Homo sapiens: one gene and its partners. The protein of the gene in region 4 purifies or fractionates together with the protein of the main gene of each other region. This does not show direct contact. Each region holds a gene or a part of one and is shown on either strand. Other genes may lie near its edges.

Region 1 (7,410 bases), on a different chromosome or scaffold from region 4:
ATTTGGTGTTCCCTCACTCCCCAAAGGAATTTGATGGTAGGTACAGTGGCCTTTTTCAAATGGGAGTAAGTTAAAGTTCAGAAACCTAAAACTTCTTCAAGCTCATATAGCAAGCCAACAGAGCCAGGGCTGAAAACTGGTTCGTTGCCTGCCATCTATCTATTCTTGTTTCAGCTTTATTGTGTCAAAATTATGTATTTAATATGTTTATCAGGAAAGTGGCCTATGGGCTCTAGAAATACTGCTTATAGGAGTAAAATGTTCAAGAGAAATCAGTCTCACTTTATTTCCAGTATAGTGTATACAAATAAGGGCTGATGAGCAGAACCAGTTTTAGAATGAATGGCCAAGCCATTAAATTTCACTTTGAGCTTCTTAAGGTTCAGAAAGATTTGGGAAATTGTTTATTCAGTTTTTCTTTAAAGATCTTCAAGGAAAGGATTATGTTTTTATTAAGATACTTAAACTCCTTAAAAAGAAAGTCCACAATCCAAATGACTTGCTTAGTAAATTGTTAGAATTTGTCCACAAAAAAGTAGTGGTGGTTTTTCACTTACCTTACAAAGAACCTGCAGGTTAACATTGGCAAGCTCTTTTATGTGGCTTATGATCATATTGAGAGGTTATTTCTGGGGAAATGCGCTTCATCAAGCTCTAGAAGCTTTATTTTTCCTTCCTTATACTCAACACTGTTCAAAATAAGGGCAGCTAGATTTTAGCGTGCCAAAACTAAAGGTGGAACTATAAGCAGAAGGACATAATTAATGGTATTTCATGCTTGATTAGAAAGTTAAAATGTTCATTAGGCATATTGTACAGAAACGAGTTTGAGAACTTTTTTCAGTTGGTGGAAAGGCAATAATATTGTTGTGAATAAGTCCTTGTGGAAGGACCACTAGTTAGGAACTTACTAACTTACTAGCAGGTGACTTCATACTTCTAACCTCAGTGTCCTTATGAGATCTTGACCTTCCATTTCCTATTCTGATTTAAGTGAAGTAAGGCACTCCTTAGTAGCCACTGGCCATGTGTGGCTCCATTAATTTAAGACAAAAACAAAAATACGGTTTCTTAGTCTAAATGGCCACATTTACATGCTCAATAAGCACATGTGATTGGTGGCTGCTACGTTGGACAGAACAGATATAAAACATTTATCACTGCAGAAAGTTCTGTTGGGCAATGCTATTATAAAAGGTATGAGAAATTTGGCCTTCAAAACAACCAGTGCTGGCCCAGCAGTAAATGGGCTGTTTTCTACTAAATCAGGAAGAAGTAGAAATTGATACTCTTCTGTGGTGACTCAATAAATACATCAGCTTCCCTGGCCAATCTTGATTAATGAGAATTTACTGTGCTACAGAATTTTTGGATGAAGTAATTGGCCATGTTGCTCAATACGGTACGAAGTGAAAGCTTCAAAAAATATATTGTGACAGAAATGAATGTTTGGATTATTGTGAAATGTGCCCTTTTAAATAACATTGGTTTTTCTCAAGTGACTTTGAAGGTAATGCTTTTGCTTACCATATTTCCAAGATGGCCACGTCTGTGCCCTTAAGCAAATATTTAATCTCTGACCTGATTTTCCCTCATCTGTGATTACATCACAGTTTGAGGATCATCTGTGATAACGTGAACATTCTGTGTATATAGTAGGTAGTCAACAGATGTACCCTGTGAGGCTCATCTTTTATTATTCTTTGCCACATTCTTTATAGTGCCTTTAGCACAAATAAGATCCAGCATCTTAAACAGATTTGCAATGAGAAATATTTTGTTTTAGGTAAAAATGTTGTACATCAGCTCTCAGTAACCCTAGAAGACTTATATAATGGTGCAACAAGAAAACTGGCTCTGCAAAAGAATGTGATTTGTGACAAATGTGAAGGTACGGTGTTTTTTTGTTTTGTTTTGTTTTGTTTTTAAGCACCTTTAATATGACACCTGAAAATGGAGCTAAGACTTCTAGATAGATATGTAAAATTGATTCATGTACACTACCTAGATTTTGGGGGAGGAGAGGGCAGATATGAAGAAAACCAACTGAAAACCTCCCACCTAAAGAAATATCAGCACTTTTTTCTGTGTATATTTTAAATACAGTTGGGATCAAGCTAGTTTGGTATCTTTTTTGTAATAAGTAAAATTTATTGGAAAGTGTGTTCTAATAAGAATGAAACTCATTGGAATGATCTCATCAGTTGTACATTCAGAGGGTAGCATTCCATCAGGCTTCGAAAATATTAAAAGTATAGCATTTAGGAATTGTCTTCTTAAAACATTTACTACTGTATACACTACTAATTCATACATTATTTAATTTTCTTTTTAAATTTAGGTAGAGGAGGTAAGAAAGGAGCAGTAGAGTGCTGTCCCAATTGCCGAGGTACTGGAATGCAAATAAGAATTCATCAGATAGGACCTGGAATGGTTCAGCAAATTCAGTCTGTGTGCATGGAGTGCCAGGGCCATGGGGAGCGGATCAGTCCTAAAGATAGATGTAAAAGCTGCAACGGAAGGAAGATAGTTCGAGAGAAGAAAATTTTAGAAGTTCATATTGACAAAGGTGAGTTCTGAGTTACTTATTCTGAAGTCTTGAATGCTGTGGCAGATTTATTATTAACATTTTATAATTGTTTAAAAATCATTCTTAATTAGGTTATATATGATCCTATCAATCAGAAATAACTCTTAGCAGCTTAGTAAATAATGTTCTTTTATCCAGACATAATTTTGCACATTGGTATATTACTAATACAGAATATATTAGGAATCTCCTCATTTAATATAACAGGATCATCTTTTGAAATCTGTGGTCCTGTAAATGATTGAATAGTGTTCCAAACTTAATTCTCTCCTGTTAAACCATAGTTCTTCCATCTTTTAAAACATTAGAATTGTACACATTCTTAATTAGGAGTTACTAGATCAAGGGATAGGCATACTTTTAAGGATTTGAAAGGGGAGTTAGGTGAAGAATTGGGTCTCATAAAAATTCATGGTTTTTTTGGAGACGGAGTTTCGCTCTTGTTTCCCAGGCTGGAGTGTGCAATGGCACGATCTCAGCTCATTGCAACCTCTGCCTCCCGGGTTCAAGCAGTTCTTCTGCCTCAGCCTCCCAAGTACCTGGGATTACAGGCACCCAGCACCATGCCCGGCTAATGTTTTGTATTTTTAGTAGAGACGGGGTTTCACCATGTTGGCCAGGCTGATCTCGAACACTTGACCTCAGGTGATGACCTGCCTCGGCCTCCCAAAGTGCTGGGATTACAGGCATGAGCTACCGCACCCCGCCTCATGTTTATTTTTTAAACCAATGGGCATGTTTTTGTTTGTTTGTTTTTTTCTGAGGTAGAGTCTTGCTCTGTTGCCCAGGCTTGAGTGCAGTGATGCGATCTTGGCTCACTCTAACCTCTGCCTCCTGGGTTCAAGCGATTCTCCTGCCCCAGCTTCCCAGGTAGCTGGGACTACAGGTGTGCACCACCACACCTGGCTAATTTTTTTTGTATTTTTAGTAGAGATGGGGTTTCACCATGTTAGGCTGGTCTCAAACTCTTGACCTCAAATGATCTGCCTGCCTTGGCCTCCTAAAATGCTGGGATTACAGGTGTGTGCCACCATACCTGGCCTGGGCTAGTTTAAATAAGCGTATTGGCCCACTTAATTGGCTTACTTGCCCATCTATTATATTTAAATGCTCCGTTAATTGATTTGATAGACTACCTTTCATTTTTTTAGACTTGACACTTCCCTAACCCATTGGGCTCCAGATTTAGAAATAACTATATAACCTTTTTTTTGTATTCTCGGGATTTGATTGATTTGTCAATTTTTAAATTTTACTCTTGTCAACTTGCAAAAACATTTTAAAATGTATTACAGCAATACACTGCAGAAATTTTAAGAAATGTATATAACCCCAGAAGGAAACTTAAGTCAACATTATGGTAATCTCTTTTCAGATTTTGCTGTTTATAAATGGGTCTACTATTATACTGTACTGTGGTATGATACCAATCTGGAACTGTTAATATTTGAACATATTTCCATATTAATATACAAATCTACATTAACATAAGTGGCTGCAATAGGATTCTATCATGTGACTCATGATACTGGCCTCTCTGACCCCCAGGGTTCCACCCAAGAATGTAGTACATTGAAAGGTAAAAATAAGTTTCCTTGGCCAGTTGTTGAACTTAATAAATCTGTGTTTACCCCTTAGTGGGCCCATGCCTAAGGTTTATACTTTGAGGTGTTCTTGATACCAATAGCATACAGAGTAAGTCTTAACGTTGTTGATAGGTTCTTGGAAACTGGGACTTCTAGCAGAATGACCTCAAATAATGTCATGCAGGTCCTCAAATAATGTCATGTCACTGTAACACAGCTGAGGGGAAAAAAATTGGTCTTGTTATGTGTCATTTCATTTAAAGCAATTTCCAAGAACCTATCAACAATGGACTGTAAGTGAGAACTTGAAATTAATGCCCTAACTATATAGCAAGTGAAGGCATTTGTGCTGTGCCTACTCTTACTCTGTATTCAGGAAAACCTAGCTGAGTTTAATTGCTTCCCTAGCATAACAAGTTATTTTGCCTCAATACACGATTAAAGACAGATTGTTTAATTTTGTCAGTGTATGATACTGATAGCGCTTTAAGTCCTTATTTAAGAGGTACGTACTGAAGTATTTGTGGGTTAATGGATATAGTTGGAGTTTGCTTGAAAGTATATGTGGGGGGCATGCGTAGGGGTGTAATACATGAAATATTAGTCATGAGTTAGTAACTGCTGAAGCCAAATTGGATGGATATGTAGGAATTCATTGTACTGTTGGCTCTGTTTATACAGGATTAATATTTTCCATACGTAAAGGTGAAACATGATTGCTCTGTTAGGTAACCAGAGTGATCTTGGGAAATAATCAGGAGATAACTGCTTTGGTGTAATACTCTACAAACACAGGTTTTCTTACATGAGTTATGTTCTAAGAGACGTTGCCCAAACCCTTACTGAACTAAAATATGTGGGTCAGAGGTGAGGGGCACGAAGTCTCAGTTTAAAAAAAAAAAAAAAGGCGTGTTTTTTTGCCCTGTTAGAAAATACTCCTCCCCTTGTATTTTACGGACCACATGGGCTAAGGGAGTGTCTAGCACTGATTGTTTTGTTTGCTTGTTTAATTTAAATGAGACAAGGTCTGGAACTCCTGTGCTCCAGGGTGCTATCCTCAGGGTATCCTCCTGACTCGGCCTCTCAAAGTATAATTACCCTTTTTTTAAGGGGACTATACTGAATAGTTCTTTAAAATACGGATTTTCAGGCACAGGGGCTCAGGTCTGTAATCCGAACACTATAGGATGCCGAGGCAGGATCCCTTGAGCCCAGTAGTTCAAGACCAGCCTGAGCGACATGAGAACCCCCATCTCTATTAAAAAAAAAAAAATTCAAAAATTAGCTGGTCTGTGGTCCTGGCTACTCGGGAGGCTGAGGTGGGAGGATCACTTGAGCCCAGGAGATGGAGGCTGCAGTGAGCCATGTTTGTGCCACTGCACTCCAGCCTAGGCAACAGAGCAAGATCCTATCTCAAGAGAAGATTATAGATTTAAAATTTTTTTAGTTTTATATATAAATACTACAATAGAAGGGTCTTGATTTACATTGCTGTTAGACTTTTAATAGAAGTAATTTGATGTGTTATAAGTAATGAAACTGAAATACTTAATTAACATTTTTTGGTTATAACCAGTGTTAGCCAGTCATGGTTTAGTACCAGCATATACCTGTTGAGTTAATACTCTAAATATTGCTAATGAGGTGTAGGTGTCTGTGGGAAAGTTGAAACTTGGAAAGGATATGCAGCTTACTTCCCCAGGGTAATCCAGCCAGTGAATAGCAGCTCTGAGATTTGAAGGCTAGTCTCTTTGCCTCTGGAGTTTGTGTTCTCCACTATGATACCTTTCTTCAGGAGCAAATTGGACTGAACTACTTAAGTGGGCTTTCTTAGTCATTTCTGTGATTTTTATGCATAAACAAACATCTATGTATAGATTTTATGATTCTGACCTTAGTTGGATATTTAATAAAAGTACAAAATTAATGTTTTGTTTTTAGGCATGAAAGATGGCCAGAAGATAACATTCCATGGTGAAGGAGACCAAGAACCAGGACTGGAGCCAGGCGATATTATCATTGTGTTAGATCAGAAGGACCATGCTGTTTTTACTCGGTAAAGACTTTTATCAACCACTCAAATTGATATCACATATTTGGGTTGTTGGTTTTGTTTTTTGTTTTTTTGTTTTTTTTAAAGTGTTTTCCATTACTCTTAGAACCTATTTCTCAGGAAGATTGTTAACCATTGTTCAGATCATAAGAGGTTGAATACATAGGATCAGATTTTTAGCTTTTTGTCTCTAAGTATGGAACGTTGAAAATGTGTTTCAATTAGATGTTTTGTGTGAACCTAAGCAGCAGATGGGTGGGGAAAACATCCCTGGACAAAAATTTGCCCTCAATCTTTGTAAAGCAATTTAAGTGCCTTAAAGCTCTCACCAGTTTTCAATCTCATTTATGATAAATTGAATTGCTTTTAATTATAAATATCCAAAAGCATCTCTGTAGGAAACTTAAATTGTAACTCAATACTAAGTATAAATTCAGGTCTACCATTTTGAGCTAAATAATGAGTATGATGAACACTGAAGCACAAGAAAGATGGATGATTAACAGCAAATGTTTGTGATCCATGGCTAACATAACACCCTCTGTGCATGCTATATTCCCAGCAACTTGGGAGGCTGAGGTGGGAGGATCACTTGAGGCCAGGAGTCCTAGCTACTGGGGAGGCTGAGGCAGAAGAGTGGCTTGAACTCAGGAGTTCAAGGTTATGATCATGCCACTGCATTCTAGCCTGGGTGACAGTAAGAACCCACCTTTTTTTTTTTTTTTTTTTAATGGAGTGGAGGTGAAATTGGGAACATCTTAAACTAGTTTAGGATTAATTAATATTTCAGCTTGGTTTGGTGGCTTACGCCTGTAATCCCAACACTTTAGGAGGCCGAGGTGGATGGTCAGGAGTTCAAGACCAGCCTAGCCAACATGGTGAAATGCCATCTCTGTTAAAAATTAAAAAATTAGCCAGGCATGGTGGCAGGCCCTGAGGCAGGAGAATCACTTGAACACAGGAGGCAGAGGTCGCGGTGAGTTGAGATGGCGCCATTGCACTCCAGCCTGGGCAAAAAGAGCAAAACTTGGTCTCAAAAAAAAAGACTAATATTTTACAAATGTCTGAAGATAATGGGAAATGTTGTCAAGCTCAGGCTTTTGATGCTGTCATTTGAGAAGGGTATTAAAGATGTTTTATTTATTTATTTATTTTTTTTGAGATGCAGTTTCGCTCAACAG
Region 2 (7,410 bases), on a different chromosome or scaffold from region 4:
TTAGGCCTGTTCTGTAACAAACTTCAAAATACGCCTTAACTTTCCTAGTCATTATACAGATTTTGTTACTCATTGTGATATATAGGTCTATTGGTGAACATTTAACATAATTACCATTTTGCACCATCACGAACAATTCATTTAACAAATACTTACTAAGTGTCTACTACATTCTAGGCTCTGTATCTGTATCTTGCAGATACAGCAAAAAATAAAACAAAGATCTTGCCCTCTTGGAGCTTGTATTCTTGCAGGAGGAGGAGGACAATAAACAGAATAAAATACATAGTGTAAACTTTTTTTGAAAAGGGACAGAGAGTAAATATTTTAGGCTTTGCAGGCCACATATATATGTCACGTATTTTTTGCTTTGTTTCATAACCGTTTAAAAATGTAAAAACCATTCTTTTGCTTATAGGATGTACAAAAACAGGGCAGAAGCTCATGGAGCTGTGGCTTGCTGACCCCTAATATAGTATGTTAGAAGGTTGTATGTGCTATGCAAAAAATAAAAAGGAGTCCAGGATAAGAGTGGGTGGGGAAGGGCAGGATAGAATATAGTATTAAACAGGGTATTCATAGATGGTAAGATCTGAGCAAAGACTGGGAGGTAAGTCCATTGAGCCAAGCAGATATGTGGAAGAAGTACATTTCAGAGAGTGGAGCCAGCAAGAGTCCTAAAGTAGGAACAGGACAGACATAGCAAGCAGGCCAGTGAGTAAGGGGAGAACAGTGGTAACAGTAAATGAGGTCAGGAAGGTAAGGAGAAAGTGGAGTGGATTGGGCAGATCATGTAGAGCCTCACAGGACCAGCTTTTCTCTGAGTGAATGAAAGGGAATGTCTTAGTCCATTCGGGTTGCTATAACAAAATACCATAAATGAGATAGCTTATAAATGACAGAAATTGATTGCTTACCATTCTGTAGGATGGGAAGTCCAAGAGCAAGGCATATTCAGTATCTGGTGAGGGCTGCTTTCTAGCTCACAGACTTCTTGCTGTGTCCTCAAGAGACAAAGGGCAAGGGATCTCTCTAGAGTTTTGTTTTGTTTTGAGACAGAGTCTCACCCTGTCACCCAGGCTGGAGTGCAGTGGCGTGACCTCAGCTCACTGCAACTTCCGCCTCCTGGGTTCAAGCGATTCTCCTGCCTCAGCCTCCCGAGTAGCTGGGACTACAGGCACGTGCCACCACGCCCGGCTAATTTTTTGTATTTTTAGTAGAGACAGGGTTTCACGGTTTTAGCCAGGATGGTCTCGATCTCCTGACCTCATGATCCGCCCACCTCAGCCTCCCAAAGTGCTGGGATTACGGACATAAGCCACCGCACCTGGCCTCTAGGACTTTTTAAGGGCACCAATCCTATTCATGAGGACTCCACTCCCATTTCCTAATACCTTGGGAGTTAGGATTTCAACAGTTTGGGAGGACACATACATTCAGATCGTAACAGGAGCCATTGCAGGAGAAGTGACAGGGACTGTCTTAATTTGCGAAAGGTTTATTCTGGCTACTGTATTGAGAAAATACTGTTGGAAGGGGATAGGGCAGAAGGGGCAGACCAGGTAGTAACCTATTTCAGTAATCCAACAAGATGTGATGGTAGTGGCTTGGACAAGGGTGGTGGCAGTGGAGGAAGCAGTGAGGCATGATAGGATTTTCGATGTATTTTGACGATACAGAAAACAGATTGTCCTGAAAGAACAGATCTGAAGAGTAAAAGAAAAAGTGAAGTAAAAAAATAAGGCCAAGATTTTGGTCTGAGCTACAGGAGGACGGAGTTGCCACTGACAGAAATGGGAGAGTCTGTGGGTAAAGCAGGCATTGGGGAGAAAGTTTAGGAGTTTAGTTTTGGATATGCTGACTTTGATGTCTATTATTAAACATTTAGGGGAGATGTTGAATAGGTAGTTGCACATGTAAGACTGGAATTGAGGAGGGGGCTAAAGATCTAAATTTGGGTATTGTTGATATTTACATGGTATTTCAAGCCATGAGACTAAATGAGATTACCAATAAAGTGAGCATAGATAGAAACAAATAAACAAACAATTAAGACTTGGGGCTCTCCAACATTAAGAGGTCAGTGAAAATAAAGGAAAAGGAGAATTACAAGGACCAGCACTGAGACAGCAGATAACCAGGAACGTGTGACGTCCTCGAAGGCAAAGAAGAAATGGTTTCAAGGCTAAGGGAAGCAAACAGCTGTGTCAAATGCTGCTGACAGGTCACATAGGATGAGAATCAATAACACAGGGCATTTAACAATATGGGGGCTACTGAAGAACCAGAGGAGCTGTTTCTGTGGGAGTGGTGCAGACAAAGACCTCACTAGAGTGGGTTTAACAGAGTACTAGAGGAGAGAACTTGGCAATAGCAAGTACAGACAACTATTTTGAGAAATACTGCTCCCAAAGGAAACAAAAAATTGGGGTAATGTGGTGAAGTGGGACAAGATTTTTTCCTAAGAGGGGAGAAATAATAGCATATCTGTTTGCTGATAGAAATGATTCAATAAAAAGAACAAAATTGATGATGTGGAAGAAGAGAACCTGAAGCAAAGTCCTTGAGCAGATGAGAGAGAATGGGGCCTAGTACAAAGGCAGACAAGAATATGAACAGTTAATCTAAGGTAACAGGCAGGAAGACAGCCATGTACTGAGCAGATGCTGCGCAGACCCTTTCATAAATAGAGTGCCAGAGGTATGTGGAGTGGTGGCAATCTATGGAAGTTCTGATTACTTCAATTTTCTCAGCAAAGTGGGAAGCAAGGTCATGAGCTGAAGGTGAGGATGGGAAAAGAGATATAGAAGGTTTGGGGAAAATAAGATATGAAATAGTCATTTAGAGGAGTGGAAGAGTAAGCAGACTAGGAAAATACAGTACAACCATCAGGCAGCATTACAGACCCACTTAAGGTTTGTGGCCATGTGTGGTTGTGTGGTTTTTTTTCTGGCCATGCTCAGTTACATAGGGGCAAGTGCAAAAAAAACCCCAGAGTTTGTTTTAACTAGAGCTCTGGTTTTGCCAAACAAGCAAAGAGCAAGGAAAGGGATCCAAAGAAGTAATTAAACTGATTAATCATGAAATTTAGATGAGTAAATTCCACATAAAAGGGAGTGAAAACATCAAGAGGGTAAGGGGCAGGGGAGCAGTAATAGGATCAATGGGTTGGAGATTCCATTGGGGTCAGAAGATGGTTAGGGCTGAGGCACTAGGAGTGAGCTGCAAAAATAGGAAGAAGCGGTAACAGAGCAGAACACATGAAATGGCAACTATGGAGGGACTGCAGTTATTGACAGTGCACGAGGGTATCACTGTGGAATGAGTGGCTGATATAGCATAGATGGGAAGAGCACTGGAAGAGAGGTCTAGGAAGTGAGAGGCCAGGGTTTGGGTGGATCAGTTATGTACATTCTTATCAATTTCAATATAAAGACTGGAGAGTGGGACAGTGGGCCTTTATGACATAATTCAAAACTGAAGATTATAGGGAGAAAGGAGGAAGCATAGTCTGAAAGAAGTAAGAAGACTCATGACAGATATCTTTCCCACCTCTAGAAACAGTGGGAGGAAAGTTACGGAGCAAACAAACAAAAACAGCCACAACTGCACAGTGGAAGAGAGTCCGGTTTCCATTACAGCAAGAAAGTGAAAGCAACATCTAAGAATGGTTCAGACTGGATTTTGCAGATGATGGATAGTTAATTTCACAAAGTACAGTAGAAGGGTATGAAAAGTTGAGAAGAGGTTTAAGAAAAAGCATAGACCCCACTCCAGCCTGGACAAGAGAGCTAGACTGTGTCTCCAAAAAAAAAAAAAAAAAAAAAAAAGTGTAGACCCAGGCCAGGCCGGGCGCAGTGGCTCACACCTGTAATCCCAGCACTTTGGGAAGCCAAGGTGGGCGGATTGCCTGAGGTCAGAAGTTGGAGACACGCCTGCACAGCACAGTGAAACCCCATCTCTACTAAAATACAAAAAATCAGCTGGGCATGGCGATGTGTGCCTGTAGTACCAGCTACTCGGGAGGCTGAGGCAGGAGAATTGCTTGAACCCAGGAGGCAGAGGTTGCAGTGAGCCGAAATCATGCCACTGCACTCCAGCCTGGGCAACAGAGCGAGACTCCATCTCCAAAAAAAAAAAAAAAAAAAGTGTAGAACTTTTTATGAATGGAATGCCAGAGACAAAATGTGAACAGGAAGTCTGGAGTTTCTGTGGTTACTAACAAGGACTAATCCTAGCACACATGACTCCTGATATACTCACGTGTTTCTCTAAGAAATGGAAACTGCTGGGTCAAAGATATTTTTACTTTAAAATAGCCGTACCGATATATTCAATGTTATCCCTACAACCTTCTCAATACATACTAACAAAACTTTTTTCTCTTTGGCCAGTATAATGAGAAAAAAAAAAAAGTCACTGCTTTACTTTGCATTTTTCTGCTGGTGAGGTAAATCATTATTCCATGTTTACCTGCTAGCCATATTTCCTCTTCTGTGGAACTTGCCCACTTAAAAAACTGAGTTGTTTTCCCTTTTAAATCGATGTAGAGTGCTTTAAAAATCTATTTTATTCTGCTCTTAATGATTCATACAAATCAATCTTCTAGATTCGTTTCATATCTTTCAATGGCTCATGATAGGGTGACATAAGGCTCAGTAGGTTCTCTCTCTTCAACATCCCTCTCTACTATATATTAGAGTTTGTCTAATTAAGACCTTAGTCAAATCTGGCCATACCATTGGTTTCATAACTGTTTTTGCACTACAGTGGTAGAGATGGTATGGCCCACAAAGCAGAAAATATTTGCTACCTGGCCCTTTACAGAAAGTTTGTGGACCCCTGCTATATACCTTTCAGGGCCCCTGAACCGCTTAAGAGTTCCAAGAACACAGCAGATCTTTATGTTTACTGACACACTCACTGAAATGCTGTTCCTAGTTCCCAAAATGCTCCAGACATTCCCCCTAATCTATTCAACGAATCTATTACTGGCCTTTCTTGGTGTTTTTACAGATTTATATCACAAAAGCTGTAAATACACTTATTGAACTTGTTTATTTACATATCTCTTTCTCCACTAGTATGTAAATCTCTCGACAAGAGATAATCCCAGCACTAATAAATGGCACAAAAGTCCTTCATGGTTTGCTAGCTCTCTCATCATTTCCTAGTTCTGCTATGCTCCAGTCAAAATATATATTTAATTTCATTAAATATTTTTCAAAAACACAATTTCAAATGGTAGCATAATAATCAATAGTTCTGTACTTTTATATTCTTATCTTTAAAATCTTGTTGGATACCACCTATTCCTAATAATTTATTTGCATTTATTTAGTATATTCATGATTTGCTGAAATACTTCTCTTCCTTAATTCCTTTCTTAGTAAAAACAAAAGTGGTGGAATCTTATCCTTCCTAGCATTAACTTTTTCATTTGTGGTAGAAACATATGCATCTAGGATAAAGGGGCTCCACTAATAAATTATTTTACTAATGGCTTCGGAGTCATCTATAAAATGCAACTCAAATATGAATTTTTCTCTAATTTTCAGTATAAATTTAACTTCCTACACCTTGTAGGCAGTTCTATTCTCCTTATGTGAAACACATATTTTTTTGCTTGTTTCCCCAGTAAAACCTTCATTTACTTTACCAGGAGTTTTACTAAACGTATATTTCAATTTTAGCACTTACGGGCCTTTTCATTTCTCTTATTCCCCAAATTTAATCAAATTTGAGATTTCTTTGGTTTTCTCTCACCTATTTGTGTTAAGATCATTAAGAATTGCACCCACAGATATTTGGTGCATTCACTTTAGAACCCGGTTTTATATAGTTGTTACCAATTATATCTCATCCAGGTAAAGATTTTCTTTTTCTAAAATGTGGAAAGTTAAGCCCTGTCTTGTTTAACTTTGCAACTTACCCATTCATTATTCCCAGCTCAGTTTAGCTATCTTAAAAATGTGGTCTGTGATCTATAGTTAGTTATAGTATAAAATTCTGAATATGTATATGATATAAAAGTATACAAATAAAACAGCATGATGAGCTTTGCAGTCAAGCAGATCTAGATTCAGATTCAGGCTCGAACGCTCTGAGCCCTTGGACAAAGTACTTACCTATTTACACTTTGTTTTCTCATCAGTAAAATAGAAGTAACTTCCATGTATAACACAGAGCCAACATAATAAATGAGAAAAATGTACATGAAAGTGACAATGTATGTTAAATGCCTACAAATGATGTCTAGTACATTACAAGGAAAACGTTAATCCACTCTCTATTCCTCCAATCCCAAAGCAACAGGAACAATACTGTGTAGTCTCAATTTATTATATTAATAAGTTCATTATTAAATTCCCTTAAGTAAAAGCAATTTGCAGTATGGACCATGAGCTTTGGATGTTTACTTTGACTCAGTATTTTTGCTTTGGGGACTCTAAATAATCCAGAATGCAGAAATTGATTTTTGTATGAGGATGTTCATTGCAGTGTTTCTTATAACTGCAAAAAAATTAGAAACTGTTTAATAATGAGAAATCCACACAAACATGCAAACATTAAATATGGTGACAAAATAATTAAGTAGCATAAGAAAATGCTTATGGTGAGAATACAAAATTACTCACATAGTAAAGTCTCAACTGTGAAAAAAATCCAATAAACTCAGAAAAAAACATTGGAAGGAAATGCGCAAAAGGGCTTACAGTAGTTACTACGTAGTACTGATATTTGTAATTTTTATTTTATGGTTTTCTATAGTTTTCTGAAATAATTAACAGTGATAATGACATTGATGATAACAGCAGTTATTATTTATAGAAAAGTTAATACATGTCAGGCCCAGTTTTAAGAGCTTAGTGTATTAACTCATTTAATCCTCATAACATAAGATGAAAAAGTGAGATTAAATAACTTGCCCAAGGTCACACAGATAATTACAGAAGGTGCCAAAATCTGAATCCAAATAGTGTGGCTCCAAAGCGCCTGTTCTCTACACTACATTGAAAAGTTTTGCTTTGTTTTAAAAATTTAACCATTAAAAAGGCATATATCAATCCCAACTTTATGGTCTCACGGTTATCAGCTTTTTTTCAGTACTGAGTTGTAATATTCGCTCTGGCATGGAGTGTCTTTTTGGATTAAGATGTAGCCACTATTCCTATATGTATTCTATCTACTCCAGAAAATTCCAGGACAAATCCACCTCCCTATTTCCCATTTCAATATCTCATTTGACCATTCAGACTCTAGAACTCTAATATTCCTACTTACTACAGCAACTTACAGTACTTCAAAGGACCCTTCAAAGCAACCCAATCAAACTTGCTTTTGAAAACCTCTCCTAACTAACATCCACGCATACAACTACAAATCAGTTACCACTTGCTGTGGTTTGAA
Region 3 (7,634 bases), on a different chromosome or scaffold from region 4:
CTCATGCCTGTAATCCCAGCTCTTTGGGGGGCCAAGGTAAGCAGATTGGTTGAGTCCAGGAGTTTGAGACCAACCTGGGCAACATGGTGCCATCTCTACAAAAAAAAAATAAAAATTAGTTGAGTGTGGTGGTGCACGCCTGTAGTCCTAGCTACTCGGGAGGCTGAGGTAGGAGGATAGACTGAGCCCAGGTCAGCCCAGGCAACACAGTGAGATGGTGTCTCCAAAAAAAAAAGGGAGGGAGAAGATAAGAATTCATTTTTATCACCTTTAAATGAGGGGGTGATACTTTTCTTTCTCCACGTAACTATCTTTGGAAATCTCTACCAATACACAATTAAGAAACTTAAAAAAGCATCACAATAAATCAGTTATGGCAGACATCTAAATTTCCAAGTTCTTCTTGTTGAATGAATGGCCAGACCTAAGTCTAGCATCTTCCCACAGGCCCTCAATTACAGGTGGAGATTTCTGGAATAAAAGCTTTGTTTTCCAAAGCCATCTCACAGACATCTGTGACATAAGCTGATCCAAGATGTCTGCCTTTTTCTTAGATATGTCCTCAACACATTAGAGAACCATTCCCGAGGCCTTACATTTGGGAAGAGGGAAAGAGATCCAATGAATGAAAACTATCTGGCACCCACACATGAAGAACATATCCCAACACCTCAACCTACCCTCTGCTTTCTAACCATAGGAATATACCACTTAGAATCAAATCCAAACTCCTTACATTGCCTACAAAGCCTTCTATGATCCGGGTCCTGGATATTTCTCCCTTCTTCATGTAACACTCTAGGAACCTAAGATATTCCTTAAATATTTCAATATTCCAAGCCGGTTCCTGTCCTTGAGCCTTGAGCCTTCTATTCCCTCTACCTGGAATGTTCTGCCCCTCACCTTTTAATGGCTGGTCTCTACCCAAATGTCACCTCCTCAGAAAAGCCTTCTTCACCTGTCACATAATTCTGTCACTATCTGAAATTATCTAATGTTTTTTCTTTCGCCCACGAGAATACATGGTCCTCAAGGGAAGGGACCTTGTCCATTTTTGTTTTTTCACTATATTCCCAGAGATTAAGTGGATGCTCAATAAAGTTATTAAATGAATAAAGAAACAAATTAATTCCAAAACTAGAGCACTGCTCTTGCATCCATCCAATCCTGTCCCAGACCCCAACCAGCAGAAGTAATCAGAAGGGGAGAGAGACTTCCCTTGCACTGATGGTAAGAAGTGAAAGATAAAGGGTTGTAGGAGCGGAGAGACGAGGTCCATTAGGATCCTCTGAAAGCATGTCAAAAAAAAAAAAAAAAAAGAGAGAGACACACACAGAGAAAGGCCAAAGATATGACTATGTGGGCCCAAGGTGAGAAAAAGAGCAATTGGTGGAATCCAAGACTAAAGGGTCCCCTTCTGTGCCTCCAAGGAAGAATAATACTTGTGCATCTACCATGTGGCAAGCACAGGTGGGATGGCACCCACCAGGGAGAGAGAAGTAAGCAAGACAGACAAGGTCCTTGCTCTCAAACAGCTTACATTCTAGCAGTTGAGAAAGATAACAAGTAAGCAATAAGTAAGTGTTAGTAAATGCTATGAAGTAACTAAAACCAGGTGATGTTGATGGAGAGCCATGGGAGAAAGGTCCTAGACAGGTTGATTAGACAGCCTGATCAACATGGTGAAACCCCGTCTCTAATAAAAATACAAAAATTAGCCGGGTGTGGTGGCGTGTAGTCTCAGACCTGTAGTCTCAGCTATTCGGGAGGCTGAGGCAGGAGAATCGCTTGAATCCGGGAGGCGGAGGTTGCAGTGAGTCGAGATCGCGCCACTGCACTCCAGCCTGGGAGGCAGAGCGAGACTCTCTCTCTCAAAAAAAAAAAAAAAAAAAAAAAAAAAAGAAAAGAGAAAAGAAAAAGAAAAAGAAAACAAAAGAAGAGGTTGGTTAGGGGAGGCCTAAGGTGAGGGAAACTTGGGAGAGGCGGCCTGCCTTGCAAAAATGTTGGTACTTCCCCAGCAAACAAAAGGCATGTGCAAATAATTTTAAATCGGAATAACCCTGGAATATGGAAGAAACAGAAAGCCACACTGGCTAAGGAGAAAGATGGGTGGGAGAGATGAATAAACAACCGTCAGCTCCCAGGGAACCTTTGTAAACCACGGTAAATAACTCAGCGCATCCTCAAAGCCACTTTCCGAGGTAGATTCTGTTATTAACCCCATTTTGCAGCTAAGGAAATGGAGGCTCAGTGAGATGAGGTGACCAGCCTCAAGTTACACCCCTAACGAGAGGCTACGTCTGGAATGAACCCAGGCGATCTAATTCCAAAGTCTATGCTCCGAACCACCACAGCACAGCGTTTCTCCCAAAACGAGGGAACCCTCCCCCAACCCGCGTTACAGGGGATTTCTATGTCCCGGGTGTACCGACTAGAATTCTCACAAACAATTCAGCAAAGTGAGATCACGATGCCCGTTTTACAGTCAGGGATACAAGTACAGAGGTTAGAGAAGGGTGAGTTCGGGGGCTTCACTAGAGTTAGGGCAAGGGACGACGCGAGGCAGCCGCAGCTCCACGCGCCCGCAGTCCCCGCCCGGGCAGGCCTCGCCGCCGCACACTCAGCTCGCGCGGCTAGCAGCCACCGTCGCAGAGAATGGACATGCGAGCGCGACCAATAAGGAGCGGCCTTCCCGAGCGGAGAGGCGGCGGCGCAGCCAATCAGCGCCGTGATGGAGAGGAAAGGGCGGGCAATCCGCAGGCTCGCGTTAGGCCGCGCCTCAGTTGCCCTCAGCCCTCACAGGCCCTGGGGTCGCCGCACCTGGGCCAGAGACCTAGGATGCCGCGAGGCGCGGCAAGCGCTCCCTAGGGAAGCCGAAGACCTTGCCTGAGCGCACCACCCGAACCCCGGGCCCACATTCCGCTCTCGCCCAGAGGCGCGGTTCTCACTCCCTAGCGCTCGTTAGTACCGGGAGCGCCTCATCCCTTCCTCAGCTGGGCCCCAAGAGCCACTCTGGTAGGCCGTGCACGCCCCGCGCCTCACCTCGTGGGGATACAGAAACGGAGGAGGGAACCCCAGCCGCGGACCGTAGCTGGCACTACCCGCTCCTGCCGCCGCTCCGCCTCACATTCAAACCCCGGCAAAATGGCGCGACAGCGAGCCTGAGGCCAGAGCGCATGAGCGAGCGGCCCGCTGCAGGGGGCGGGGCCAGGAATGCTCTGGCCCCACCCAAGTTCGAAGGGCCAATCGGGGCCCCGCTCTGTTTCTGCGCTGATCTCACAAGTGACAATGCTCTTTGGCTCTGACCATGCCAGCAGGCTTCACGGTTCTCGTTTTCCAAAGAGGAACACAGATTCAGCGAGCGGCTGCTGGCTTCTGACCCATTTTGATGTCAGGGCTTGGCACGTAGGAGGTGTTCAATGTTGATCGATCCAAGGTCGTGCACATAGGGTCTAAGACGGAAGAGAACTTCCTGCCCCTCTTGGAGCTTCTATTTTAGAGGGAGACACGGCCAGACAGGTCTCGAACTCCTGGCCTCAAGTGATCCGCACACCTTGGCCTCCCAAAATGCTGGGATTCCAGGCGTGAGCCACCGCGCCTGGCCTGGTATGTAAGTTTTGGTACTCTTATTACAGCCCACAAACCATATGGGATCTGGCCCCTGCCAGCCTGCCTGCCCTCATCACCTTCCGCTTCCCTCCTCTCCTCACCCTCACTCAGCTCCGCCACCCCACCTTCTTCCTGTTCCTCTAAGCTCCAAGCTTATTTCCACTTTAGAGCATTTATACTTGCTGTTCCCTGTGCTGGGATGTTCTAGATTCCTGAATGATTGGCTCCTTCTTTACATTTAGGTTCCAGCTCAAATGTCACCTCCACAAAAGAGGCCTATCTGAAATTGCCCACTCACCACCACCCAGCACACAAATTAGGGTTGCCAGGTTTAGCAAATAAAATGCAGGCTGCCCAGGTCAATGTAAATTTTAGAAAAAAATTTATAATTTTCTAGTATAAATACTGTGTAGGACATATTTATACTTAAAAATCATGCATTGCTTATCTGAAATTCACATTGAACTGGGTGCCCAGTGTTTGATCTGGTAAGCCTAGTTCCATGATATCATTATGGTATTTATCACTCTCCAACTAATTGTCTCTTCTTTATTTTGTTCCTCCTTCCGCTTCTCCCCTCCTAAACCCCTGCCCTCCTCCCCATCCATAACCTAAGGGATTCTATACAGCAAGGGCTTTTCTTTTTTTTTTTTTTTTTTAAAGACAGAGTCTTGCTCTGTCGCCCAGGCTGGAGGGCTGGAGTGCAGTGGTGCTGTCACAGCTCACTGCAACCTCTGCCTCCCAGGTTCAAGCAATTTTCCTGACTCAGCCCCCCAAGTTACTGGGACTACAGGTGCCCGCCACCATGCCCCGCTGATTTTTGTATTTTTAGTAGACACGGGGTTTCACCATATTGGCCAGGCTGATCTTGAACTCCTGACCTTGTGATCCGCCAGCCTTGGCCTCCCAAAGTGCTGGGATTACAGGCATGAGCCACCACGCCTGGCCAGGGCTTTTTTTTTTTTTTTTTTTTTCTTTTAAGAGGCAGGGTCTTGCTCTGTCACCCAGGCTGCAGTGCAATGGCACAATCATAGCTCATTGCAACCTCGACCTCCTAGGCTAAAGCAATCCTCCCACCTCAGCCTCCTGAGTAGCTAGGACTACAGGCACCTGCCACCACACCTGGCTAATTTTGAATTTTTTTGTAGAGATGAGCTCTCACTATGTTGCCCAGGCAAACTCCTGGCCTCAAGTGATCCTCCCACCTCCGCCTCCTAAAGCACTGGGATAGGGCTGGGCATGGTGGCTCACGCCGGTAATCCCAGTGATTTGGGAGACCGAGGCAGGCAGATCACCTGAGATTGGGAGTTTGAGACCTGACCAACATGGAGAAACCCCGTCTCTACTAAAAATACAAAATTAGCCGGGTGTGGTGGCGCACGTCTGCAATCCCAGCTACTTGGGAGGCTGAGGCAGGAGAGTCGTTTGAACCCGGGAGGCAGAGGTTGCGGTGAGCTGAGATCTTGCCATTGCACTCCAGCCTGGGCAACAAGAGCGAAACTCCATCTCAAAAAAAAAAAAAGCCCCGGGATTACAGGTGTGAGCCACCACATCTAGCCCCATATTGATGGTATTCACAGCTGTACCCCCAGCACTAGGCACACAGTAGCTGCTTAATAAATGTTTGTTGCATGTTGAATGAAATGCCATATATAAATAAGTGAAGTCCATGGAGAAAGATACATGAGTGAAAGACATTGGTGAGGCCGGGCACGGTGGCTCATGCCTGTAATCCCAGCACTTTGGAAGGCTGAGGCAGGCGGATCATGAGGTCAGGAGATCGAGACCATCCTGGCCAACATGGTAAAACCCTGTCTCTACAAAAATACAAAAATTAGCCAGATGTGGTGGCATGCGCCTGTAGTCCCAGCTACTCAGGAGGCTGAGGCAGGAGAATCGCTTGAACCTGGGAGGCAGAGGCTGCAGTGAGCCGAGATCGAGCCACTGCACTCCAGCCTGGGTGACAGCGAGACTGTGTCTTAAAAAAATAAATAAATAAATAAAATAAAAATAAAAATAAACCATGATGGTCAGAAGACGGTGGAACATTTTAAAAAAAAACAAAGACATTGGTGAAAAAGATGTATTTTTACTATTGCAGCAATAGTACCAGTAATCACCAGTAATCATTTTAATCGTTCTAATCTGCATTTTTTTTTTTTTTTGAGACGGAGTCTCACACTGTTGCCCAAGCTGGAGTGCAGTGGTGCGATCTCGGCTCACTGCAAACTCCACCTCCTGGGTTCACGCCATTTTCCTGCCTCAGCCTCCCGAGCAGCTGGGACTACAGGCGCCCGCCACCATGCCCAGCTAATTTTTTGTATTCTTAGTAGAGACAGGGTTTCACCGTGTTAGCCAGGATGGTCTTGATCTCCTGACCTCATGATCCGCCCGCCTCGGCCTCCCAAAGTGCTGGGATTACAAGCGTGAGCCACCACACCCGGCCCACTAATCTACTTTAATATAATTAACATGTTCCTCTAGTCCTAGGGAGAATGAGCCTGATGACTTTACCATTTTCCACCTCTAAGAGCCAATCGCAAAGGAGGCTGGCTGGCATCTTGTGTCTGTCTAGCATCTCTACCAGTTTCTGTAGAAAACCCTCAAGCTGTGCCAAGACGATCATGTCTGGACACAGCTCTTGGTGTCACGGGGTGTCTCCTCCTACTGCCTATCGCCCTTTGCAGCCACCAGAATAATCATGCAGGTGAGAGCCACAGAAAGGCTGAGTGTCCTTCTCCACTCTGCATGGTTCATGGGTGACAGCTAAAGATTCCCTTGGGAATCCTCCCCATCCCAGCTCCACTACATGCACATACTCTTGGGGCGTGCTACAACTCTTAACAGACTGTGTTGGAAACCAAAGAAAACAATTCATCCACTTCAAGGAGCAGGAGACTAAGTACTCATTCATGTAGTTTCCTTTCTTTCTAAACCCTTATAAAACAATCTGTCTAGGTTGGGCATGGTGGCTCACGCCTGTAATCCCAACACTTTGGGAGGACAGGATGGGTCACCCGAGGTCAGGAGTTCGAGACCAGTCTGGCCAACATTGTGAAACCCCATCTCTACTAAAAATACAAAAATTAGCCGGGTGTGGTGGTGGGTGCCTGTAATCCCAGCTACTTGGGAGGCTGAGGCAGGAGAATCACTTGAACCTGGGAGGTAGAGGTTGCAGTGAGCTGAGGTCGCACCACTGCACTCCAGCCTGGGCGACAAAGCAAGATTCTGTCCCCCCGCGCAAAAACAAAAAAAACCCCAATCTGTCTAATGTAAGGAAAGACATTCTGAAAAGACACATTGTCTATGGTGTGCTCCTTGAGGAAGATAACTTTACATTTTATTTGGATCCAGAAGGGCGTGGACACATCTGGTTATGCTGGGAAAGAACAAGTCTTATGTCTCAATCTCGCTTTTAAAGCCCAACTGAGATGCAGAAGAGTGTTAACAGCTAAACATTGAGAAGTATCTGATTGTTGTTTCTTATCTTTTTTAAAATGGAGGCACTTTAATTTTTTTTTTTTTTTTTGAGATGGAATCTCACTCTGTTGCCCAGGCTGTACAGTACAGTGGCGCGATTTTGGCTTACTACAACCTCCGCCTCCCAGGTTCAAGCAATTCTCCTGCCTCAGCCTCCCAAGTAGCTGGGACTACAGGCGCCCACTACCACACTCAGCTAATTTTTGTATTTTTAGTAGAGATGGTTTCACCATGTTGGCCAGGCTGGTCTTGACCTGACCTCAGGTGATCTGCCCACCTTGGCCTCCCAAAATGCTGGGATTACAGGCGTGAGCCACTGCACCTGGCTTATTTCTGTTTAAATATATGTTTATATGTTATAAAAATCTACACGTTTGAGACTAGCCTGATCAACATGGTGAAACCCCATCTCTACTAAAAATATGAAAATTAGCCGGGCGTGGTACTGTGTGCCTATAATCCCAGCTATTTGGGAGGCTGAGGCAGGAGAATTGCTTGAACCCAGGAGGCAGAGGTTGCAGTGAGCTGAGATTGCACCATTGCAC
Region 4 (7,410 bases):
CTCCGCCTCCAGGGTTCTCCTGCTTCAGCCTCCTGAGTAGCTGGGATTACAGGCGCACGCCACCATGCCTGGCTAATTTTTCTATTTTTAGTAGAGACCGGGTTTCACCATATTGGTCAGGCTGGTCTTCAACTCCTGACCTTGTGATCCGCCTGCCTCAGCCTCCCAAAGTGCTGGGGATTACAGGCGTGAGCCACTGCAACCGGCGGCTTTAATTTCTTGTCTGCTACATCTACAGCAGACTCTCAAAGGATGGGCAATAGTCAAACAATGTAAAGCTATGTTCCAGAAAAAAAAAAAAAAAATCATCCAGACATCACAGAGGATGCCAAGCTGAATTTGCACTATTAAAGAAAATGGCAAGAGGGAAGCACAACAACCAGAACTTTATAATAAGGCCTACTCTTAAGCAGATGACAGTCTTTATTGCTAAAGACAAAGAAAAACAAGGATATTGTCCACAGATCTTTTCTCTTAAAAAAATAATCAAAGTAGGACCTGGGATGTTAAAAAGAAAGAAAAAATACTTTAAAATGAAAAGGACCAGGACAAGAATTCAACATCAATTTGGAAACCTGATATGCTATAGAGTGCATTCATATCTTCTCCATCACAACTCTGAGAAGGTGGATTATTCTAATTTTACAAATATAAAAAGCAGCTCAAGAGTGAAGTAACTTCTCCAGTGTCTCACTACTGGTATAACATGAATCAATAATTTTGATTTCTCACTTCTTCATAAACAAAGCATGAACTCCATTTTGAATGTAAATAACAGTAGAGAGGGTCACCACTTTTCCCATCTCTTTAGGAAAAGATTTAGATGAGCCAACCCTAAAGGGGTGGACAAACCTAAAGATGACCTTGTAGTGCTGTACCTAAAACTTAAATGATTCTGAAAGAGCTGGAGGCATTAAGAGAAATCAAGTCATTGACCAACTAAACTTATCACACCACATAAAGGATAAATGTAAAATGTGTTAACCTAGAAGCAATCAGGTTTTTAAACCTATCCTACCTAGAAGAATTGCTTTTAATCAAGCTTGTAAATGAAGAAGTTTCTGTTTCTGAAGAGAATGAGGGTATTTTATTCTTCAAAAGCCAAATGGAGGTAAGCCCAGCCCTGCAGAAACAGAGGAAAAAAAGTCTAAAGCATAGTAAAAGGGATACAAGAAACAAGTCTGAAGCAGGCTTGGAGAGTGCAAAGAAAGATGGCCAGGCATGGTGGCTCATGCCTGTAATCCTAGCACTTTGGGAGGCCAAGGTGGGTGGATCACCTGAAGTCAGGAGTTCGAGACCAGCCTGGCCAAGATGGCAAAACCCCGCCTCTACTAAAAATACAAAAATTAGCCAGGCATGGGTGGTAGGCACCTGTAATCCCAGCTACTCGGGAGGCTGAGGCAGGAGAATCACTTGAACCTGGGAAGCAGAGGTGGCAGTGAGCCAAGAATGCGCCACTTCACTCCAGCCTGGGCGAAAGAGTAAGACTCTCTCTCAAAAAAAAAAGATGAAGTAAGCATGTAAACATACACCTGGCAAACCAGACAGCAAAAAAAGAGAAGCTAAACTTGATACAAAACTCAAGGGCCAAAAGGAAGGGGCCACGTGAGGTGTTTAAAAAAAAAAAAAATATCCTGTGAAGAGCTTGGCCAAGTTTTGGGTTGTTTTGATTGAAGACACAAGAAGTCCAACAGTCAGATCTGCAAGGGACTAATGGTTTCATCACAGATTTGAACATCGGGAAAACTCAGTAATCACTAGTGGCCTGGCTTAGATGTAAGACACTTATGTAACAAGTTGTGAACCTCTTTTAAAAAATTATGCAACTGACCAATTATTTCACCTCAAAAATTCTGAGATAACCAAGTCTCAATGTCAGAACCCACTATGAGCACACTAGAAGTCATGCATTTTGCAAACACTACCCTTACAGACTAGAAGGTCCTAGAGGAGAAAAGCAGAAACAACATTTAAGGTTTTAGGTATGTTTTTGCTCCACCGGGGCATAATGTAGTTTTGTACTGTTAACAGTATATATTCTGAAAACCAAGTCCAATTGCCTTACCACTCAAACCCAACCTCAGTTATTTCCCAAAATACAAAGTCCCATGTAAATGGTGAAGTATTTAAAATAGAGTCCTTTTTAAATAGTTACCTGACTGAAAACAAACCTTTCTCATAACTTGAGCTAATTAGGAGACCTGCATGCTTACTGGAGAATCTTAGGCATGACTACATTTTAACATAATCCCAGGACAAACTAGTGTACAGTGGATAATCTCATACACACACACACGGCCTCTTGAAGGCTCTCAGCCAAACACTGCTCTGAGCACACCCCAATTCTAGAAGCGTGGACTTTCGGGTACCTATCCCAGAAAAACAGCACAGAAGCTGTGGCCAGTCTTGCGTCCAACACTATTTTACAGAAACCAAAGTCACTGTGAAAAAGAGCCACATACTTGAAGGTTAGGCAAACTCCACAAGCACTGAAATGTCAATCTAACCTTTAACCACAACACATTCATTTCCTTATTCAAAAAAGGAACTGGGCGGGCATGGCACAGTGGCTCATCCGTGTAATCCCAGCACTTTGGGAGGTCAAGGTGGGTGGATCACTTGAAGCCAGGAGTTCGAGATCAGCGTGGCCAACATGGTGAAACCTCATCTCAAAATATAAAAATTAGCCAGGCATGGTGGCAGGCACCTCTAATCCCAGCTACTTGGGAGGCTGAGGCAGAAGAGTCACTTGAGCCTGGGAAGCAGAGGTTGCAATGAGCCAAGATTGCACCATGGCACTCCAGGCTGGGTGACACGCAAGACTCCATCTCAAAAAAAGAAAAAAAAAAGAAAATGAACTGATTCATACACCAGTCATAGCAGGTATCCCATATTTCCCTTTTTTTTCTTTAAATGCTTTTATATAAGCATGGGAAACTGAATCCAAGAGATTTTAGAAGACAAATTCTCCCACCACAACGGGCTGGGGTGGGGGCAGAGGGCAAAGAATTATATTGATTCTGAAGACCAAATCATAACTTTCTTACATAACTGCATAAAATTAATCAGATTACTCTACTTATAGCTTTTTGATACACATTGATTCATGTGAATTAGAGCAGGTATCGCAAGTTTGTAACAAGGAACTGAAGTTCAAAGGGCCTTGTGTCCAAAGTTCATTGACAGAGTTCCCTCTGTGACCTCTCTTCCTCAAATGAGAAGCCATCTCTCAATTGCAGACAATCTACAAACCATAAGAGCACAATGCTACATCAAAGCAACACTTCTAAAGAAATACTACTGACTACGTGATTTTTAAACTTAAGAATTAAATTTGCACTAGCCAGTCCACCACACAGAAAAATATTTTATTCTTTTTTGGGAGGAAGGGTAGAGGCAGGGTCTCACTATGTTGCCCAGCCTGATCTCAAACTCCTAGCCTCAAGATCTCAAGAGAACCTCTCCCCTCAGCCTCAAGTGCTGGACTACAGGTGTGAGCCCTGGCACTCCAACCAGTAAAGAAAATGTACTGTTTCTTTAGGAATGTAACAATCTAAGTCACAGCCAAAATAAAACTGTTCCCAATCGTATTCCCTAAGGAAGTGGCATCCAAAAATAAGCACACCTCCTAGCTACTTATGTATTTACTTAATCTTCACCTAGCACACAAAACAAAGGACCAGGAACCAGGGGGATAATATTTTGTGTGTGTGTGTGATGGATTTTCGCTCTTGCTGCCCAGGCTGGAGTGCAATGGCCTGATCTCGGCTCACCACAACCTCCGCCTCCCAGGTTCAAGCAATTCTTCTGCCTCAGCCTTCCGAGTTAGCTGGGATTACAGGCATGCACCACAATGCCCAGTTAATCTTTTATTTTTAGTAGAGATACGGTTTCTCTCCATGTTGGTCAGGCTGGTCTCAAACTCCCGACCTCAAATGATCCTTCCGCCTCAGCCTCCCAAAGTGCTAGGATTACAGGCGTGAGCCCCCGCCCCAGCCCTGGGGGAGCATCTTAATAACCACTGTTTGTTGCCTGCCTGGCATCCAATCCTTGTCCTCCCCTTCCTAAAAGCACTCCAGGTTTTTGTTTAGATAGCAACCATGTTTCGAGAGAAGCTCCCTCCACATTTGCTCAAGGGGTTGTGGCTTAGCTCTCAACTCATGTGCATAACCCTATGTACCCCTATTAATGGTTGTGGGTAAGCAAGTGACCCCGTTATGGCCAAGAGATGACAGAAGTCATTTTTAGGCTCTTCTAAGCTTTACTGAGTGGCTCTAAGATGTGAGCCACAAGCCATTCTGCCAACATAATGAAGCCAGCCTGATAACAAAGTGTGCGAGTGCACACAGGGGAGAACAGAGCAGGGGAGCCTGGGCTGCTCAATTAAGTCAATCCTACTGTGGCCTTTTAAGTCAGAGGAGCCAATACATGGCCATACAGCTAAAGCCAGCCCAACTTGTGTTTTCTCATACTTGCAACCAACATATTCTTTCACAGAAAAACTACACACAGGCTGGGTATGGTGGCTCACAGTTATAATCCCGGCACTTTGGCAGGCTGAGGCAGGTGGATCGCCTGAGCTCAGGAGACCAGCCTGGGCAACATGGCAAAACCTCATCTCTACCAAAAATACAAAAACTTAGCTGGGCATGGTGATGGGTGCCTGTGGTCCCAGCTACTCAGTGGCTGAGGTGGGAGGATCACTTGAGCCTGGAAGGTGGAGGTTACAGTGAGCTGAGACAGCACCACTGCACTCCCACCTGGGTGACAGAATGAGACCCTGTCTCAAAAGAAAAAAAAAAAAAAAGAGCCAGGCGCGGTGGCTCACGCCTGTAATCCCACCATTATGGGAGGCCAAGGCGGGCGGATCACCTGAGGTCAGGAGTTCAAGACCAGCCTGGCCAACATGGTGAAACCCCGTCTCTACTAAACATACAAAAAGTAGCCTGGTGTGGTGGCAGGCGCCTGTAATCCCAGCTACTGGGGAGGCTGAGGCAGGAGAATCGCTTGAACCAGGGAGGCGGTTGCAGTGAGCCGAGATCACGCCATTGCACTCCAGCCTGGGGGACAAGAGCGAGACTTCGTCTCCAAAAAAGGAAAAAAAATAAGAGCTACACACAAAAAAAGCAGTCTATTATAAAAAATAAGTATTATGTATAACTGAGGCTACTGCTTCTGACAAAGCTACAATTTTTTCATTAAAAAAAAATTTTAAGACACGGGATCTCACTATATTGCCCCAAGCAATCCTCCTGCCTCAGCCTCCCAAAGTGCTGGGATTACAGGCATGAAAAGTTAAATAGAAATTTAATGCTTAGGGTTTCTCACTGTAATCCACACTAAGGTATTTTGAACAAAGTCTCAAACTCAGTAATAATTTTTTGCAGCCAAGTGAGTCACAAACCAGCTCCACCAGTCTCCAGGTAGAATATGATTTCTGGCCATTTGTTTCTAAGTCACCTGCCACTTGGCCCACACATTTACAGTTATGCTCAGTTCTCCTTTAGTGTACGAGTCCAAAATGGCCACACTGAAGTGAGACATATAAAGAGGGCTTGGCATCAAGATGTATCAAAAGTGAGGACTTAAGGGCATCAGACTATTTTTCCCACCTGTCAATTCTACTTACATTTACTCCAATTAGGGAAAGAAGATGAAGAAGGAAATACACACCAGAGTTTATTTCAACACAAAAAAAATTTTTAAAAAGACAGAAAATAAACTATTATTACTTCCCTTCATTTTAAGCACTGCCCACATTGAGAAAAATCCAAAAAATACTTAAAACTTGACCACCAACACAATGAATGCCAGAGCACTCACTATGCCAGGCACAAAGCTAAGAGCTTGTACTAGAATCTGTGGTAGTTATCCCTATTTAAGTTAATTAAGTCAAGGAGCACAATGGTGAATTAACACCTGGCTTCACTGTCTCCAGGACCATAAAGGTAAGAAGTAACAGAGCCAAGATCTGAACTCAGGCAATGTGGCAGTAGACTCCAACTCACAATGACACTGGGTAAACATCAACCCTAGCCAGATTAAAATGATTTTTTACTCCCCTTCTTTAGTTCCAGGAATCAAAAAATATACTGATCTAAGGATACTACTGAATATTGAAGAAACACCATCCTCTTTGCATTTATCAAATCAAAAACCAGCAGTCAGTATTTTGGCTTCCTTCCTTTTTTGGAAAGGGGAAGACAAGTCTGACCCTACTATTTACAGTAGAGGTAACCACCCACTCCATTTTATTGAATTCTGTCCTTGCTGAAGTTCAACTTACATTTACATTATCTTCCAAATCCTTCTAGCCACATTCCAACCAAACCAATTAACTCAATTTTCAACTTTTCAAAAGCCCTCTGACAACTAAAAGCGACCCTCTGCTGGGTTTTTAATCTCAATCCTGACCTTCTTAATGAAGGTCAGGATTGAGATAAACACCTAATGAACTTCTTGGTAGTTATCAAGAAGCTGGTAGGAGTGCCAAATTGTCCCCAGGCTGCACAATAAGCCATTTTTACCTTGTCAGATATTATACAAAATACAGGAATGCTGCCTGCTGCCCACTTAGAAGTATCCACCAAATTTTTCCCCCCTTAAATTATATTTAAATATTTAATCAGAACTATAACCAATATCATTTAAATTTAGTACTACTTACTGCTGCATGCACTTGTGACACCACCTTGCTAATTTTATTGGTTCTATTTAAGGTAACCAATTATTCCTACAGCTGTATGCCTGTTCTCTAAAGACCACACCCTGAAAAAGAAAAAGTGTGAGGCTATCCAGAGTATTATCCACACACTCCTTGAATCAAATAAGAAAACGTTGCACTATCAAATTCCACAAGACACAACTTACCATTTCTATTAGGCAAGGGATGTGTTTTCACTGTACAGAAACAAGGTACAAAATAAAACTAGTTCAGACTAACAATCTAGCATTTACAATAATCCAAGAATCATATGTGATGTTTTCTAAAAATAAAATTAATGTTCCTCCTTAAGTTTTCTGAGCAGGAAAACAAACAAATTGTAAACATTTTTAAATGAAGTAATCAAATTAAGGATTATTTCAGAGTTCAACTGCTGAACCCATCTTCTTACACGAAAAGTTAGCACTAACGAAAACTGCTAGGTTAGTCCTAAAGGGACACATTCTACAAGAACCCAACAGGACCAAAGCCAGAGGACAATCCCATTTTATACGGCCTAGGCTAAGAACCTGGCACATAAAAACACTAAAAATGTGTTGCCTTCCCCTTCAAGCACAAAGCAATACCAACAAAAGCAAAAGAATAAACCATGGTACTGCCACACCATAGAGTAATACTAGCCAATCAAAAGGCACTGAACTATGCACACCTGCAATGCGAACTCGATGGGTGAACCTTATCATAGT

The links.
Region 1: the proteins of HAPSTR1 (region 4) and DNAJA1 purify together in Homo sapiens (affinity purification with mass spectrometry, with the first as the bait; 2 studies listed by BioGRID). This does not show direct contact.
Region 2: the proteins of HAPSTR1 (region 4) and TNPO1 purify together in Homo sapiens (affinity purification with mass spectrometry, with the first as the bait; 2 studies listed by BioGRID). This does not show direct contact.
Region 3: the proteins of HAPSTR1 (region 4) and CSE1L purify together in Homo sapiens (affinity purification with mass spectrometry, with the first as the bait; 2 studies listed by BioGRID). This does not show direct contact.

What each region holds. Positions count from the first base shown.
Region 1 is NC_000009.12:33,028,099-33,035,508, forward strand, and holds part of DNAJA1 (dnaJ homolog subfamily A member 1), read left to right. Parts: intron 1-1,786; coding exon 1,787-1,891; intron 1,892-2,341; coding exon 2,342-2,569; intron 2,570-6,117; coding exon 6,118-6,232; intron 6,233-7,410.
Region 2 is NC_000005.10:72,819,329-72,826,738, reverse strand, and holds part of TNPO1 (transportin-1), read right to left. Parts: intron 1-7,410. UniProt on the Homo sapiens protein: Functions in nuclear protein import as nuclear transport receptor. Serves as receptor for nuclear localization signals (NLS) in cargo substrates.
Region 3 is NC_000020.11:49,041,832-49,049,465, reverse strand, and holds the start of CSE1L (exportin-2), read right to left. Parts: upstream 3,155-7,634; 5' UTR 3,043-3,154; intron 1-3,042. UniProt on the Homo sapiens protein: Export receptor for importin-alpha. Mediates importin-alpha re-export from the nucleus to the cytoplasm after import substrates (cargos) have been released into the nucleoplasm.
Region 4 is NC_000016.10:9,094,638-9,102,047, reverse strand, and holds part of HAPSTR1 (HUWE1-associated protein modifying stress responses 1), read right to left. Parts: intron 1,124-7,410; exon of another isoform or gene 1,019-1,123; intron 1-1,018. UniProt on the Homo sapiens protein: Acts as a central player within a network of stress response pathways promoting cellular adaptability. The E3 ligase HUWE1 assists HAPSTR1 in controlling stress signaling and in turn, HUWE1 feeds back to promote the degradation of HAPSTR1.